2 separate regions of the Homo sapiens genome follow, and region 1 is linked to region 2. A link means that fine-mapping ties the variant in region 2 to the expression of a gene that starts in the linked region. Tissue or cell type: testis. Region 2 holds a variant in brackets; the other region holds the start of a gene. All regions are shown on one strand. Distances are from middle to middle.

Region 1 (8,099 bases), 300 kb before region 2:
TCTTGTTCTTCTAAATGCTTGATTTCAGGCTGGGGGTGGTGGCTCACACCTGTAATCCCAGCACTTTGGGAGGCTGAGATGGGTGGATCACCTGAGGTCAGGAGTTCGCAACCAGACTGACCAACACAGTGAAACCCCATCTCTACTAAAAATACAAAAATTAGGCAGGCATGGTGGCACGCACCTGTAATCCCAGCTACTCCGGAGGCTGAGGCAGGAGAATCGCTTGAACCCGGGAGGCAGAGGTTGCAGTGACCCAAGATCATACCATTGCACTCCAGCCTGGGCAACAAGAGCAAAACTCCGTCTCATAAATAAATAAATATATATATATGCTTGATTTCAATCCCTTAAACTAGCTATTTAAATCAGTTAGGAAACCACTCCATAAAACAGAATTACTTATCATAATCACCTCACCCAAAGCATTTCTTGAACACATACTATAGCAAACACTGTACCAGACACTTTTATACATAATCTCAGTTAATGTTTACAGCCTTCTAAGGTAGGCACTCCTTCCCCCCACCCCCCGCCCTTAGGATGGTCTGTTTCTTAAGTGGTAGGCATTCTTATCCCCATTTTAAGAATAAAGAAACTGAGACACCAAGAGTAGCAGGACCTGAACCCAAGCCTGTGTGACCATAAAGCCTGCACTCTTTCCACTAACCCTTGCTGGCTTCTCCAGTAGAAACAGGAGAAAAGTTCATAGTCATTTGTTTGGTTTTTTAGCAATGATTCTCCCTGGAGAAGATAACACCTAAGAATTACACAAATGATTTTAAAACAAGAAAAAAAATAGTTGGCAGAAAAGCAAAAAAAAAAAAAAAAAAAAAAAGAAAGAAAGAAAAAGAAAAAAGAAATCAAATCAAAAATCTAAATTTTAAAAATTGATTTTGTAGTAAAACAAAATTGAAAATATGCATTGGGCAGTTAAACTGGTACAATAAAAGGAGGAAGACTGTGCCAGGTGTTCTCAAGAATCGGTTGTCAGTTCTGGCATCCATAAAAACCAACAGTTTTAACCATTAATGATCTTTCTATTGGGAGTATTGAGTCATGGACTTGGTTTCTCATCTCTGCTCCAACAACAGCTTACCTTTCTGGCCTTGGATATGTCATTAAACTTGTTCTGCTTTAGTTTATCCATCAGTAAAATAAAAATAACGAATACACTAAATCTACCTCACAGACATGTTCTAAAGAACAAATAATCTTAAAACAACAACAGCAGCAACAACGCTTTGAGATCTTATAAGAAATGCCACTGCAGTCAATACATGACTAACCTCCTCGATGCAGAGGAATCCACTCCTTAATGGAAAACAAAAAATCCCAGATAATCATCCCAGCTGATCTAGGGTTGGGGTTCTGAGAGACTCTGCCTCTGAGAGACAGGGGCTTCTTAGAGAGTCCCTCTAAGAGGCAAGAAATGGCTCCTGAACTGCATAATCAAGAGCCAAACAGAGAAATCTGAAGGGTGGTAACAAGCCAAGGCAATGCTACAATGACTCATTCATTCACCCAACCACTCCACAAATACATATTGAGCACCTTCTCTGTACTAGAACTGAATTTCCCTCCCTTTCCTATGGGAACGAGAATAAAGCTGGGCCAAGCCCAGGCACTATGCAGTAGGCTTTATGCCAGAGAGCAATCTCCAGTCTATGGCCCGATGCTCAATGCAGGAGAGGACCCTGGAAAAGGGCAGTCTGAAAATCCTCTTCAAACTATTGTGACGTCTACTTCTCAGTTAGATACAATCTTTCCATTCCCTCTAGATGCCCCTAGCACAGAAGTGCAGAAGTGTGCATACACACCCACACACAATGGTTCTATATTGCTGTGTTACACTATATCTATTTAAATATGTTCCTATGTATGATATGAAATCTTCATATTTGTTTCTTCTGCCTTTCATTAGGCTGCACTAGACAGCTCCATTTCTAGGAAGAAACATACTGTAAACCCATTTGTGGCTGGTCCTCCTTGTGAGCTCCTGCTAAGCTGGTAGGAAGCTTCCCGGTGACTCCATCTTAGTTGGATTGCCTGCAGAGCCTAACACTGTACTTAGGGTGCAGCTTGGGGGGGCCTCTGAAGCAGCTGACTAGGGTCTGGAGGGCAGGGAGTATACTGAAGAAAGGTAGTGTGTCCCTAAGGCTAGGGAAAGCTTACACATACCTATGATGCACACACACAAATATATAAATATATGTACATATGAAAAGTAAAGCAAGAGCATGTTCATTTATTCATAATCTAACACCAAACTGCTACCACCAAGACAGAAATATAATGGCATTTCCCCTCCACCCTGTCCCTCTGTCCCAACCTCTTCAAGCCATTTGGTGGCTTCTGCTACCCCACCCTGTCCCTCTTCTCCCAGTGCAGGCTGCCTCGGGTACTCATTTTGACCTGATTTCAATTCCATCTGGTCAAACATGCTGGGAGGAGGGGAAGGGAGAAGGAGAAGCATGTAAGGATTTGCCACTGGGGCTAGACCTAAGCCCTTGTCACCCTCCCCAACCCTAGGGTGATCCTGCGGTGAGGAAGAAATGGAAAGCTCCAGCTTAAACCCTGAGACAGAAGCCAGAGCTGCCTGCAAACATTTTCTGAGCATCTATTAATATAATTTGCCAGTCTCCATCCATTTGCAGCTCACGTTAAGGGGCCCTGGAAAGCTCTGCAGTGGGTTCAGGAGAGCTATGAATTCCTCGCAATGTGTGAGGCTGTTCCTCCCTGCCTCAGCCCTAAAAGGGCTTGCCTCTTTTCTCTTTCCCCTTCTGTTCCTCCCCTAAGCTCCTTTCTCTCTTGACCTTGAGAGCCCAATGATGTGCTCCTTCCCATTATTGGAAGTCTGGCAAAGGCGACGAGAAGCAGCTGGGGTGGGGAAAAGAAGAGGCAAAGTGACAGGGGAAGAAGGGACAGACCCGAAAGTGCTGGAAACATTCCCTGCCATCTCCTAGTACTCCACAGCATAAGAGCAAGTCCTCATCACGCCCAACTGGGGAAAGCAGCCCAGCCCCCAGGTTGCAGAGGAGATGTTTTGGCCAGTCACCTTCCGTGATTGATTCCAACTCTGCAGAGGGGAAAACCTGCAGAGGGCCTGGCTCTGGTCATCCACAGAAGGCAAGGTGGGGATTACGGACTGTTTGCGGGAGAGAAAAAGCAGACTTTGCAGATTTTGTAGATTACCCCACACACAAAACAAAATAAAACAAAACATCTAGCTCTCCCTTGAGAGAAGGGGAAGAAACAAGAGCTTAGTGACCTTTATTTGGGCCAAGAATGCTTTGTCTCAAGGATCCAGATACATACCCAGGTGGCTGGAGGAATACTATCAGCTGTCTGCCTGGGATGAGGAATACCAGTCAGCCCCTAAAAATTGCTTGTTTTAGTAGCCCATTTTTCCCAGCTCTTTTCCTCTTTCCCTTTTGTTCTGCTCTAAAATAAATAAACTCTCCGCTTGCTAAACTCTTAGCTCACAGGGAGGGAATCAGACTTGTATACTGGTTGCCCGGACTTTGGGTGTGTGCTGGAAGGAGGGAAGGGCTCCTGCCAATGACAGGTGCTACGCAGGTCTCAGCCTTCTGGTTTACTTGGGATGGGGGGTATTCGCTGCGCAACCCCTCCCCCAACTGGCATTCAGTGGCTCCAGAACAGCATAGCCCACAAAAGAAATCGCTCTTGCCCAGCTGCTCCTTCCGAGCTGCAAAGTTGTTGAGAACGGAGGGTCCAGGTGGGGATAGGGGCTAAGGGGGTGGGACCAGAAACTGAGAAGGAAAAAAGGGGAGAGGTCCTCGCAATCCCATGGGAGTGCGCTCCTCATCACCCGTTTGCTTCACTTACCATCTCACTGTAGGCATCCTTGCTGAGCCTGGGGGTCAGCTTGATAGTCCCCATGAAAACAAAGAAGAGTCCCAGGGCCACTGAGAGGGCCACAATAGTTACGGTTCTGGGGGATGCCATGGGGTCGCCAAGGCAGGTCCCAACTAATCCTTCTGATTTGCGCACCCGCTCTGTCCAAGGTGCAGGCAGTTAGCACAGGGAGAGCTGGGGGGACGCTGCGGAGGCAGCAGGCAGCTAGAATGACAAAGGGAGAGGAGGGAGCTCGAGAGAAAAATTGAGAGATCGAGATTCAACCACTCTCACTACAACAAACGCTGGGTCCTAATGCCCTACGTGTGCTCACAGGCCAAAAGGACAGTCTCGAAGTTAAATGAAGCCCTAAAGGAAAGACGGAAACTTCAAATCTTAAATGGGGAGAAGGGAGGTTATGTATGAGTTCAGTCACCAAGTGACCCCAGGAATGAGGAATTAGGGAAGACAGGCTTTGCTGCCACCTTCCCACCGGGCTCACTTTTCATCTCCCCCTCCCACTTATCATCCTTCAGTTATTCACTCCCTTTTTCCATCTCTTCCTTTGTGTCCCCCTTTCCTTTTCCTAAATCAAAATATTAGCCCTCAGAGAGTTGTTTCTGAAGTTCGTAACACTCAAGGATAAAACTGCAAATTTGTCAGCCTTCAATGCTGCCAAAGAAGGCTTCCTCTTTCTCTTGCTCAGAAATCTTTAATGACTCTCATAGCCAGTGGTTAACTCCAGTTTTAAATTTGGAATTCAAGGCCCTCCACATTTTGACCCCTGTCTCTCTTTGGAGATTTAGTTTTCAATGGCTCCCACTGCCACACGCCACCACTCATCTATCTACTCACGGCCTCACACAACCTACGCCTTACCACCTCCTCTACCTTTAACTCCCTATCTTTTGACCCCGCCCCCCACCATCACTCTTCATTAGCATTAAACCTTTTCTTTAATGTCACCTCCTCTATAAAGCCTTTCCTGATCCATTGTCAGTTAGATATGATTTCTCCCTCCTCCAATTTTCTATAACAATAACCAATAATTGTCAACTGTTTACTAGATGCTAGACGCTGCCCTCTACTTGTATTAACTAATTTAATCTTTACAGCAACACTATGGACTAGGTATGAGTCCCCATGCTATGAATGGGCACATTGAGGGGCTGGGAAGGTAGGTAACTTGCCCAGGAGTATACAGCTAGTAAGTGGAGAGCCAGGCCTCAAACCTAGGCAGTCATTTCTAGGGCCCAGGCTCTTAACAATTGCTCTGCTGCCTCTCCTGTAATATTTTTCACTATTAGTGTGGTACTTAAAGTTGTTTAGCACTGTAAATGCTCACGCACACACACACAGAGTTTTGTTTTGTTTAGAGACAAAGTCTCACTCAAGTGATCCTCCATCTCAGCCTCCGGAGTAGCTGGGATCACAGGCACATGCCGCCATGCCTGGCTAATTTTTTTATTTTTTGTGGAGTCAGAGCCTTGTGATGTTGTCCAGGCTGATTTCTAACTCCTGGATTCAAGGGATCCTTCCGCCTCGGCCTCCCAGAGTGTTGCGATTACAGGCATGAGCCACGGAGCCCAGCCCTACACGATTTTTTTTTTTTTTGAGACCCTGCAGAGGGTCTCCCTCTGCAACCTCAACCTCGTGGGCTCAAGTGAGAGGCTCTCTCTTGTAGCTGGGACTACAAGTCTCTCAAGTAGCTGGGACTACAGGCACGTGTCACCACACCCGGGTAATTTATTTTTTATTTTCTGTAGACATGGGGCTACCTTATGTCAACCAGGCTGGTCTTGAACTCCTGGGCTCCAGCGATCCTCCTGCCTTGGCCTGCCAAAGCATTGGGATTACAGGCATGAGCCACCATGCTCAGCCCTAAACAATCATTTTTAATGATTGTATAAAACTTTAGCATCACTTGAATGTACTATAGTTCTCATTCATTTTGCATCCTATTGCTAGATATTGATGTTGTTTCCATGGTTTTTACTTTTACAAATAAAAATGTGATGCATGGCCAGGCGTGGTGGCTCACGCCTATAATCTCAGCAATTTGGGAGGCCGAGGCAGGCAGATCACCTGAAGTCAGGAGTTCAAGACCAGCCTGACCAGCATGGTGAAACTGTAACCTCCCAAGGGGTTCACCTTGCCCGCTGCCTAGACAGAGCCCATTCATCAAGACAGGGGAATTGCAACAGAGAAAGAGTAATTCACGCAGAGCCCACATGCGGGAGACCAGAGTTTTATTACTCAAATCAGTCTCCCTGACCATTTGGGGAGCAAAGTTTTTTGTTTGCTTGTTTTGTTGTGCTTTTTTGAGACAAAGTCTTGCTCTGTCGCTCAGGCTGGAGTGCAGTGGTGCAATCTAGGCTTGCTGCAACCTCCACCTCCTGGGTTCAAGTGATTTTCCTGCCTCAGCCTCCCCAGTAGCTGGGATTACAGGCATATGCCACCACACCTGGATAATTTTTGTATTTTTAGTAGAGACAGGGTTTCACCATATTGGCCAGGCTGGTCTCGAACTCCTAACCTCAGGTGATTTGCCCGCCTCGGCCTCCCAAAGTGCTGGGATTACAGGTGTGAGCCACCATGCCTGGCCGGGGAGCAGAGTTTTTAAGGATAACTTGGTAGGTCGGGGAAAGCCAGTGAGCCAGGAGTGCTGATTGGTCAAGGATGAAATCATAGGGAGTCAAAGCTGTTTTCTTGTGCTGAGTCAGTTCCTGGGTGGGGGCCATAAGATCACATGAGCCAGTTTATTGATCTGGGTGGTGCCAGCTGATTTATCAAGTGCAGGGTCTACAAAATATCTCAAACACTGATCTTTGGAGCAGTTTAGGGAGGCTCAGAATCTTATAGCCTCCAGCTGCATGACCCCTAAACCATAATTTCTGATCTTGTGGCTAATGTTAGTCCTACAAAGGCAATCTAGTCGCCAGGCAGGAAGGAGGTCTGCTTTGGGAAAGGGCTGTTACCATATTTGTTTAAACTATAAACTATAAACTACATTTCTCCCGAAGTTAGTTCAGCCTACCCCCAGGAATGAACAAGAACAGCTTGGAGGTTAGAAGCAAGATGGAGTCAGCTAAGTTAGATCTCTTTCACTCTCTCAGTCATAATTTTACAAAGGCGGTTTCAATCCCTCCCTTTGGGTTTTATAATACCTTAATCTTAAGGTATAGGCTATGAAGATGGGAAAAGGCCATCAATCACTCTGGCCTCTTCCTGCTGACAGGGGATGTAGTGGGATTGGGAGTGAACCCCAAGGTGAGAAGAGTGGAACTGCTTTACAATTAATTGTCTGAGCATACTCATGCCGGCCTGGTTGAGCTTCCAAGGCTTGTATGGCAAAAACATTAGTACTCTCATCTATAGTTTTACTACAGTGTTTAAGTGAACAGCCTATTTTACCTTATAAGGTAAATAATGAGTCCTAGGATGAGGAGTACAATTCCCAATTTTAAAAGCAGAGATTTGAAAGCATTAGTTTGGGGACTTCTAACCCACAAACAATTTAGAATTTAGTCTAAACTGCAGAAAAAAACTCAAGAACAGCTAACAACAGTGTACTATAGTTTTTTGAAGCATAATTTTTCTCTCTCCAGTCCCCATTTTTATTAAAAACAACATGATAGAACTGATTTGTTTACAAAATAAGCTTTAGTCTTACTGTATGTGGCCTGATTATTTGCATAAAGTGCAGCAAGAATATTTTTCACTTAGGGTTTTTTAATTGGCTTTGCTAGAACTCTGTTCCATGAAGAATCTCAGATAAGATGTTTTAAAAGCCGAGCCCAGCCGTGGGTTTGCACCCTCAAATACCTATGAGTTGGGCAAATTCCTCTCCTCTTGAGGTCCCAAGATAACTTGGGGTTCCTGGGCCTGTTAGAAAGTGACATTCTTTACTTACCACAGGACAGGAACCTTGCACAGGGACTCTGTGTGGATAAGGTATGAGGCCAGATGCCTCAATGGGCTTTAATTTGCTCTATAAGTCAACTTTGATTATTTAAAGGAAGCATGCCATTCCAGTCAAAGCCTTGGTAAAGTAACCAATTTCTCCAATTGTGTCCTGTTACAAAAGAAAACAAATTCTTATTGAATTTATGCAATTAACTATACTGCCATAAATTGAGAATACTCACAGATAGTTTCCAAATTCTGGAGAAATCAGGTAGAGAGGAACAAATATGCTCCAAATTTTGTCCACAGCAGTATATTTTACTCACTTGTTAACA
Region 2 (8,108 bases):
ACTTTTACCACTTGCCCTTCTCAGAATTTGGGCCTGTCCTCGGGATGCTACAGGGTACAGCCCATTTGAGCTCCTGTATGGACACTCCTTTTTATTAGGCCCCAGTCTCATTCCAGACACCAGCCCAACTTGGACTGCACCCCAAAAACTTGTCATCCCTACTATCTTCTGTCTAGTCATACTCCTATTCACCATTCTCAACTACTCATAAATGCCCTGCCCTTGTTTACACTCCCAGTTTACACTTTTCCTCCAAACCATCATAACTGGTATCTCCTGGTTTTATCTCAAACCACCACCCTTAAATCTCTCTTGAAGTGGATAAAAGATCTTCAGTGGCAAGGCACAGTCCGGTACTTTCACCCTGATGAAGTCCTATTCTTTACTTTTTTACTCACTCTTATTCTCGTTCCCATTCTTATGCCACCCTCTACCTCTCCCCAGCTATCTCCACCACACTATCAATCTCACTCTCTCCTAGCCGTTTCTAATCCTTCTTTAACAAACAATTGCTGGCTTTGCATTTCTATTTCCTCCAAAATCACCGAGACTTCCGCTTACTCACTGCTTAAAAAAAGGGGACTCTATATTTTTAAATGAAGAGTGTTGTTTTCACCTAAATCAATCTGGCCTGGTATGTGACAACATAAAAAAACTCAAGGATAGAGCCCCAAAACTGACCAACCAAGCAATAATCACGCTGAACCCCCTTAGGCACTCTAATTAGATGTCCTGGGTCCTCCCAATTCTTAGTCCTTTAATACCTGTTTTTCTCCTTCTCTTATTCGGACCTTGTGTCTTCTGTTTAGTTTCTCAATTCATACAAAACTGTATCCAGGCCATCACCAATCATTCTGTACAACAAATATTGCTTCTAACAACCCCACAATATCACCCCTTACCACAAAATCTTCCTTCAGCTTAATCTCTCCCACTCTAGGTTCCCACGCTGCCCCTAATCCTGCTCGAAGCAGCCCTGAGAAACATTGCCCATTATCTCTCTATACCACCCCCCAAAATTTTTGCCACCCCAACACTTCGCCACTATCTTGTTTTGTTTTTCTTATTAATATAAGAAGACAGGAGTGTCGGGCCTCCTGACACTACCTACTCAAATCCTATAAAACTGCCCCACCCCTAACTCCCTTTGCTGACATCTTTTTCGGACTCAGCCCACCTGCACCCAGGTGAAATAAACAGCCTTGTTGCACACACAAAGCCTGTTTGGTGGTCACTTCACCCAGACACGCGTGACAGTGGTCTTCCCCACTTTTGCTACTTTGCAGCTACCACTGAAAATAGCTGTCCCATTCTGGTTGTTTGGTTTTTGTGTCTGCATTCTCCATCCTGGTTCACAGGTACACTAATTTGGGCATCTCAAAAGATCCCCATTTAGGCCATTGTAACTTAGAATCTGCTTTAGTTATAGTGGTCCGCTTGGTTAAATATTTGCATGATGATTCACCATAAGTATTTTGCATATACCCTGCTGGAGTTTCTAAGAGGGGAACTTTATATTCTGCAACTGCTGGGGTCTTAGAGGCCTTGTTCTCTATAATTTAGAGTTCCCCTTTGGATTTGACCAAGTTGGGATGTGTGTTGGACCCAAAATGTGCTGCTTGCAAACCTAGCTTTTCACAGGGCCATTACACCCTGAACCAGTTTGGTCCACCAGCGTTGTGGCCACCTGGCACAGTGTGTCAGGGGCTCAAAGTTTGGGAGGGGTCAGTTCCTTATATGCATCTGCTGGCTGAGATTAGACCCTAAGTATGTTCTTTTGAGGGGGAAACCTATTTAGAGCTGCTGCATGTCTTAGGGAGCATTTCTCCCAGAAACCCTCATGTGATTCTCAGTCGCCTGAGAATGCCCCAAAGGGCTGAGGGGAGCAATGTGTTCTGTTTCTTCAGAGTGGAAAATTTCACACTCATGAGCTTGAAGGTTCAGAATTGGTCAAATCCGATAGGGGAAAGGACCAAAACACACACACACACACATACACACACACACACACACACACACACACACACACACAGATATATATACACACACACACACACACACACAAACCCAGAAACAAAACAATTAAACAAAACTAACAATGATCACGCAAATTATATGATTTCTGAGCGCTCTAAGGGTAAGCAGGAAATTAACACCAGCTGGTTGTTAGTGCTAATTCTAGTCGTTTAAAAGAATTTGCAAGACAGAATTCCAAACCAGTTTCTTACCTAGTGATGGGGGCCCAAGCTGAAGATTGCTCTCTGCATATGCAGAAGCAGACAGGCTCGCCTTCCTTGATGGAAGTGAGTGGAAACGCCTACAAAAAAAGGAATTTTTGTTGTTTTTGTTGTTTTGTTTTGTTTTTAACAGCAAATAAACTTCAGACCCCCAACTGGAAAATGTTGGAAGATCAGAGATCCCTGGAAAGAGGTCCTCGACTTTGGCAAATTGTCCTCTCAGTTTGGGCTATAAGGTGACCAAGCCGGTGCCAAGCACTGAGAGGTGAGCTACTGCAGGCTGGGTCACTTTCACTCAGGATCCCTTCGTGGTTACCAGATGTCAATTGAGAAAAATGACAAGTCTCAATCATTTTAGGGGATTTATTTGCCAAAGTTAAGGATGCACTCAGGAGACAGGTCTATGCCTGTCTCCGAAGATGATTTTGAGGGCTCAAAATTTAAAGGGGAAAGGGTGCGATACTGAGAAGTACACAATTTTCATGTAAGAGGAGGGTAGGGAAAAATAGTCATTCATGCCTTTGTCTGGCTCAGGGAATCTGCATTAATAAGATGACATAAAAGAGGCAGAGGAAAAATGTGGGGAATATGCATTTTACATAAGATAACATGGACAAAATGGGGCAGGGGAACACTCAGATGTGCATTTATGTCTAGTGCGCCGGGGGCGACTGCACCTGTAAAGATAAGCTATCAATTTGCATTGCTACGGTGAAATTTTAACAACTCACTAGGAATTTCCTTGTGGGCAAAATATGGCGGAGGCATGTAGCTTTTCATCTTGTAGCCATCTTATTGAGGACCCAAAAGTGGGAGGCAGGTTTGCATGACCCAGTTCCCACTTTGACTTTTCCCTTTCGCTAAATGAGTTTGGCGTCCCGAAATTGAATTTCCTTTCACAGATTACATGGGGAAAGGAGGGCCTGGAGCTTCCTACTCTGCTATCTTTCAGATGTCACTCAAAAATGTATTCTATCACTTTTATAAACAGGGACACCAAAGCTCAGAGAGTGACTTGTACAATATTACATAATTAATAAAAATACAGCTGGGATTTGACTCTTTTTAATTTTTAAATTTTTATTTCTTTAAAATTTTTCAGGTTTTGTGATTTTTTTTAAAAAAGAAGCTTAGTATCTTGGAGTAATTTTAGATTTGCCAAAAAGTTGCTAAGATAGTGCGGAGA[G/C]TTCCCGTATCAGCCCACTTCCCTCCCTTTGGCCCTACACAGAGTTATTGTTTTTATTATCATCTTAGATTAGTATGGTACATTTGCTACAAGTAATAAACCAATATTGATACATTATTATCACTAAAGTCCATACTTTATTCAGATTTTCTTAGTTTTTATATACTGACTTTTTCTGTTCTAGGAGCCAGTCCATGATACCACATTGCATTTAGTTGTCATTTTTCCTTAGTTTCTTCTTGACTGTGACAGTTTCTAAGACTTGTTTTGATGACCTATTGAGGAGTACTCCTCAGGTATTTTGTAGAATGTCCCTCAATTGGGATTTGTCTTACGCTTTCCTCATGATTAGAATGGGATTATAAGTGTTTGAGAGAAAGATCACAAAGGTAATATTCCATTCTCATCACACCATATCAAGGCTTTGCTCAGCTAACCAAGGTAGTGTTTGCCAGGTTTTTCCACTATGAAGTTACTTCACCCCTTTTCCATACTCTATTTTTTGGAAGGAAGTTACCAAGTCCAGCCCACACTTATGAGGGTTTGATGGGGATTAAGTGCCACTTCCTGGAAGGCAAGTATCTATATAAATTATTTAGAATTCCTCTATAAGGAAGAATAACTTATTTTGTTGCTCAAATTGTTCCAACTTTGTCCATTGCAAGCTCTTTCAGGCTGGCTCCTGTGTCCATTTAGCATGCTCCCATAATTTTGTTTTTTGAGTACTTTCTTAAGTTGCCTCTAAATTTCATTCTAAACACCTATCTACCTCAGTTCAGTTCCCTTTACCCAGTACATCATGCCTTGCTTTGAACAGAAAAATTATAAGATATGCTAAAAAGAGAAAAAAAACCACAGTCTTGAAGAAACAAAGCAAGCACTAGAACCAGACTCAGATGTGGCAGATATTTTGGAATTATGGGACCAGAGATTTAAAGTAACTATGATTAATATGCTAAGGGTTCTGTCTTAGTCTGCTTGGGCTGCTATAACTTATACTGTAGGTTGCATGGCTTAAACAGCAGAAATTTATTTCTCACAGTTTTGGAAGCTGGGAAGTTTAAGATCAAGGTGCCAGTAATTTGGTTTCTGGTGATGGCCCACTTCTTGACTTGTAGATGGCCACTTTCTTGCTGTGTCTTCGTATGGTAGAGAGAGAGAAAACTGGCGTCTCTTCCTCTTATAAGGGCACTAGCCTTATTCAACTAAGGCCCTATCCTTATTACCTCATGTAACCTCTGTCACCTTCTCACAGCCCCTATAAATGTAAAACAGAAAACTACAAAGCTTCTAGAAGATAACATAGGAGAACATAGAGGTGACCTTGTGTTTGGCAATGAGTTTTTAGATACAACACACAAAGCACAATCCATGAAAGAAAAAATTGGCAAGTTAGACTTCATCAAAGTTAAAACCTTCTGTTTTATGAAAGACACTGTTAAGTAAATGAAAAGACACGACAAAGACTGGGAGAAAATATTTGCAGAAGACATATCTGATAAAGGACTGTTATCAAAAATATATGAAGAACTCTTAAAACTCAATAAGAAAATGAGCAACCCAATGAAAAGATGTGCAAAAGATCTGAATGGACATATGCCCAAAGAAGATATACAGATGGTAAATATGCATATGAAAAGATGCTCAACATATATGTCATTAGGGAATTGCAAAATTAAAACAACAATGAGATACCACTCCACACCAATTAGAATGGCTAAAATCCAAAACACTGATAACACCAATGTTTGTGAAGATGTAGAACAGAAACTCTTTCATAGCTGGTGGGAATGCAAAATGGTACAGATACTTTGGAAGATAGTTTAGCAGTTTCTTACAAAACTAAATATGCCTTAGGCATTTACCTCAATGAGTTGAAAACATATGTCCACACAAAATCCTACACAAAAGTTTTTGTATCAACTTTATTCATTATTGCCAGAAATTAGAAGTAATCAAGATGTCCTTTAATGATGAGTAAATTTAAAAAAAACTGTGGTATATCTATACAATGCAATATTATTCAGTGATAAAAAGAAATGAGCTGTCAAGCCACAAAAGACCCGGAAGACCCTTAACTGCATGTTGCTGAGTGAAAGAAACCAGTCTGAAAAGCCACATATTATTGTGATTCTAATGATATGATGTTCTGCAAAAGGCAAAACTATGGATATATTAAAAAGATAAGTGGTTGTGAGGGCTTTGGTGTGGTGATAGCAAGTGGGGAAAAGATGAATAAGTGGAGCACAGGGCATTTTCAGGACAGTGAAATTATGCTGGATGATACTGTAATGATGGATACATGACATATTAATACATTTGGCAAAACCCATAGAACTGTATAACACACAGAGTGAACACTAACATATGGACTTTAATTTATCAATATTGATTCACTGATTGTAACAAATATGCCACATTAACACAAATGTTAATAACAGGGAAAACTGGGGGCAGGGAGTAGGGGGTATATAGAGACTGTACTTTCTGCTCAGTTTTTCTGTAAACCTCAAACTGCTTTTAAAAATAAAGTCTTTTAATTTAAAAATTAATATCAGGGCTCGGGTGCGGGGGCTCACGCCTGTAATCCTAGCACTTTGGGAGGCCGAGGCAGGTGGATCACCTGAGGTCAGGAGTTTGAGACCAGGCTGGCCAACATGGCAAAACCCTGTCTCTACTAAAAATACAAAAAAAAAAAATTAGCTGGGTGTGGTGGCAGGAGCCTGTAATCCCAGCTCCTTGGGAGGCTGAGGCAGGAGAATTGCTTGAACCTGGGAGGCAGAGGTTGCAGTGAGCCAAAATTGCGCCACTGCACTCCAGCCTGGGCGATGGATACAAAAAGATATTCACCTAGGCACATTGTCGTCAGGTTATACAAAGTTAAGACCAAGGAAAGAATCTTAAGAGCTGTGAGACAGAAGCACCAGGTAACCTATAAGGAAAACCTATCAGATTAATAGCAGATTTCTCAGCAGAGACCCTACAAGCTAGAAGGGGTTGGGGCCCTATCTTCAGCCTCCTCAAACAAAACAATTATCAGTCAAGAATTTTGCATCCAGTGAAACTAAGCATCACATATGAAGGAAAGATACAGTCGTTTTCAGACAAACAAATACTGAGAGAATTTGCCATTACCAAGGCACTGCTACAAGAACTGTTTAAAGGAGCTCTAAATCTTGAAAGAAATCCTGGAAACACATCAAAACAGAATCTCTTTAAAGCATAAATCACACAGGACCTATAAAACAAAAATACAAGTTAAAGAGCAAAATCAAAAAACAAACCAAAGTACGCAGGCAACAAAGAGCATGATGAATGCAATGGTACCTCAAATTTCAATACTAACATTGAATGTAAATGGCCTAAATGCTCCACTTTTCTACAGAATTGCAGAATAGATAAGAACTCACAAACCATCTGCTGCTTTTCTGCATCCCTGGTACGAAACTTACTTGATCATGGTGGATTATCTTTTTGGTATGTTGTTGCAACTGGTTAGCTAGTATTTTGTTGAGGATTTTAGCATCTGTGTTCATCAAAAATATTGGTCTGTAATGTTCTTTTTTGGTATGTCCTTTGCTGGTTTTGATATTAGGGTGATGCTGGCCTAACAACACATAAGGACTCACATAAAGTAAAGGGGTGGAGAAAGGCATTTCATGCACATAGACACCAAAAGTGAGCAGAGGTAGCTATTCTTATATCAGACAAAACAAATTTTAAAGCAACAGCAGCTAAAAGAGACAAAAGAGGGCATTATATAATGGTAAAAGGCCTTGTCCAACAGGGAAATATCACAATTCTAAACATATATGTACTAAACACTGGAGCTCCCAAATTTATAAAACAGTTACTATGGGCCGGGCACGGTGGCTCATGCCTGTAATCCCAGCGCTTTGGGAGGCTGAGGTGGGAAGATCACCAGAGGTCGGGAGTTCAAGACCAGCCTGACCAACATGGAGAACCCTTGTCTCTACTAAAAATACAAAATTAGCCAGGTGTGGTGGTGCATGCCTGTAGTCCCAGCTGCTCGGGAGGCTGAGGCAGGAGAATCGCTTGAACCCAGGAGGCGGAGGTTGCAGTGAGCTGAGATCATGCCATTGCACTCCAGCCTGGGCAACAAGAGCAAAACTCCATCTCAAAAAAACAAAACAAAACAAAACAAAACAAAAAAACCTGTTATTAATAGACCTAAGAAATGAGATAGACAGTAACACAATAATCGTGGGGGACTTCAATACTCCACTGACAGCCCTAGACAGATCATCAAGACAGAAAGTCAACAAAGAAAAAATGGATTTAAACTATACTTTGGAAGAAATAGACTTAACAGATATATATAGAACATTTCATCCCAAAACTGCAGAATACACATTTTATTCAACAGCACATGGAACGTCCTCCAAAATAGACCATACAATAGGCCATAAAACGAGCCTCAATAAATTTAAGAAAATTGAAATTATATCAAGCACTCTCCCAGACCACAGTGGAATAAAACGAAATCAACTCTAAAAGGAACCTTCAAAATGATGTACATACATGGAAATTAAATAACTTGGTCCTGAATGAGCATTGGGTCAAAAACAAAATCAAGATGGAAATTAAAAAATTATTCGAACTGAATGACAATATTGACACAAGCTACCAAAACCTCTGGGATACAGCAAAGACAGTGCCAAGAG

The links. PIP is the estimated chance that this variant, and not a neighbour inherited with it, causes the effect.
Region 1: it holds the start of TMEM35A, and the variant in region 2 is fine-mapped to the expression of TMEM35A in testis (GTEx, PIP above 0.99).

Annotation. Positions count from the first base shown.
Region 1 is chrX:101,074,873-101,082,971 of GRCh38, reverse strand. It overlaps TMEM35A (transmembrane protein 35A), which reads right to left and starts at 4,093. Exons shown (of 2, transcript NM_021637.3): 1 at 3,850-4,093. The coding sequence starts at 3,969.
Region 2 is chrX:100,779,764-100,787,871 of GRCh38, reverse strand. No RefSeq gene overlaps it. Among named protein-coding and RNA genes, the nearest start is that of CSTF2, 37 kb to the left of the region's middle. The variant G/C (reference allele first, on the strand shown) is at 3,424.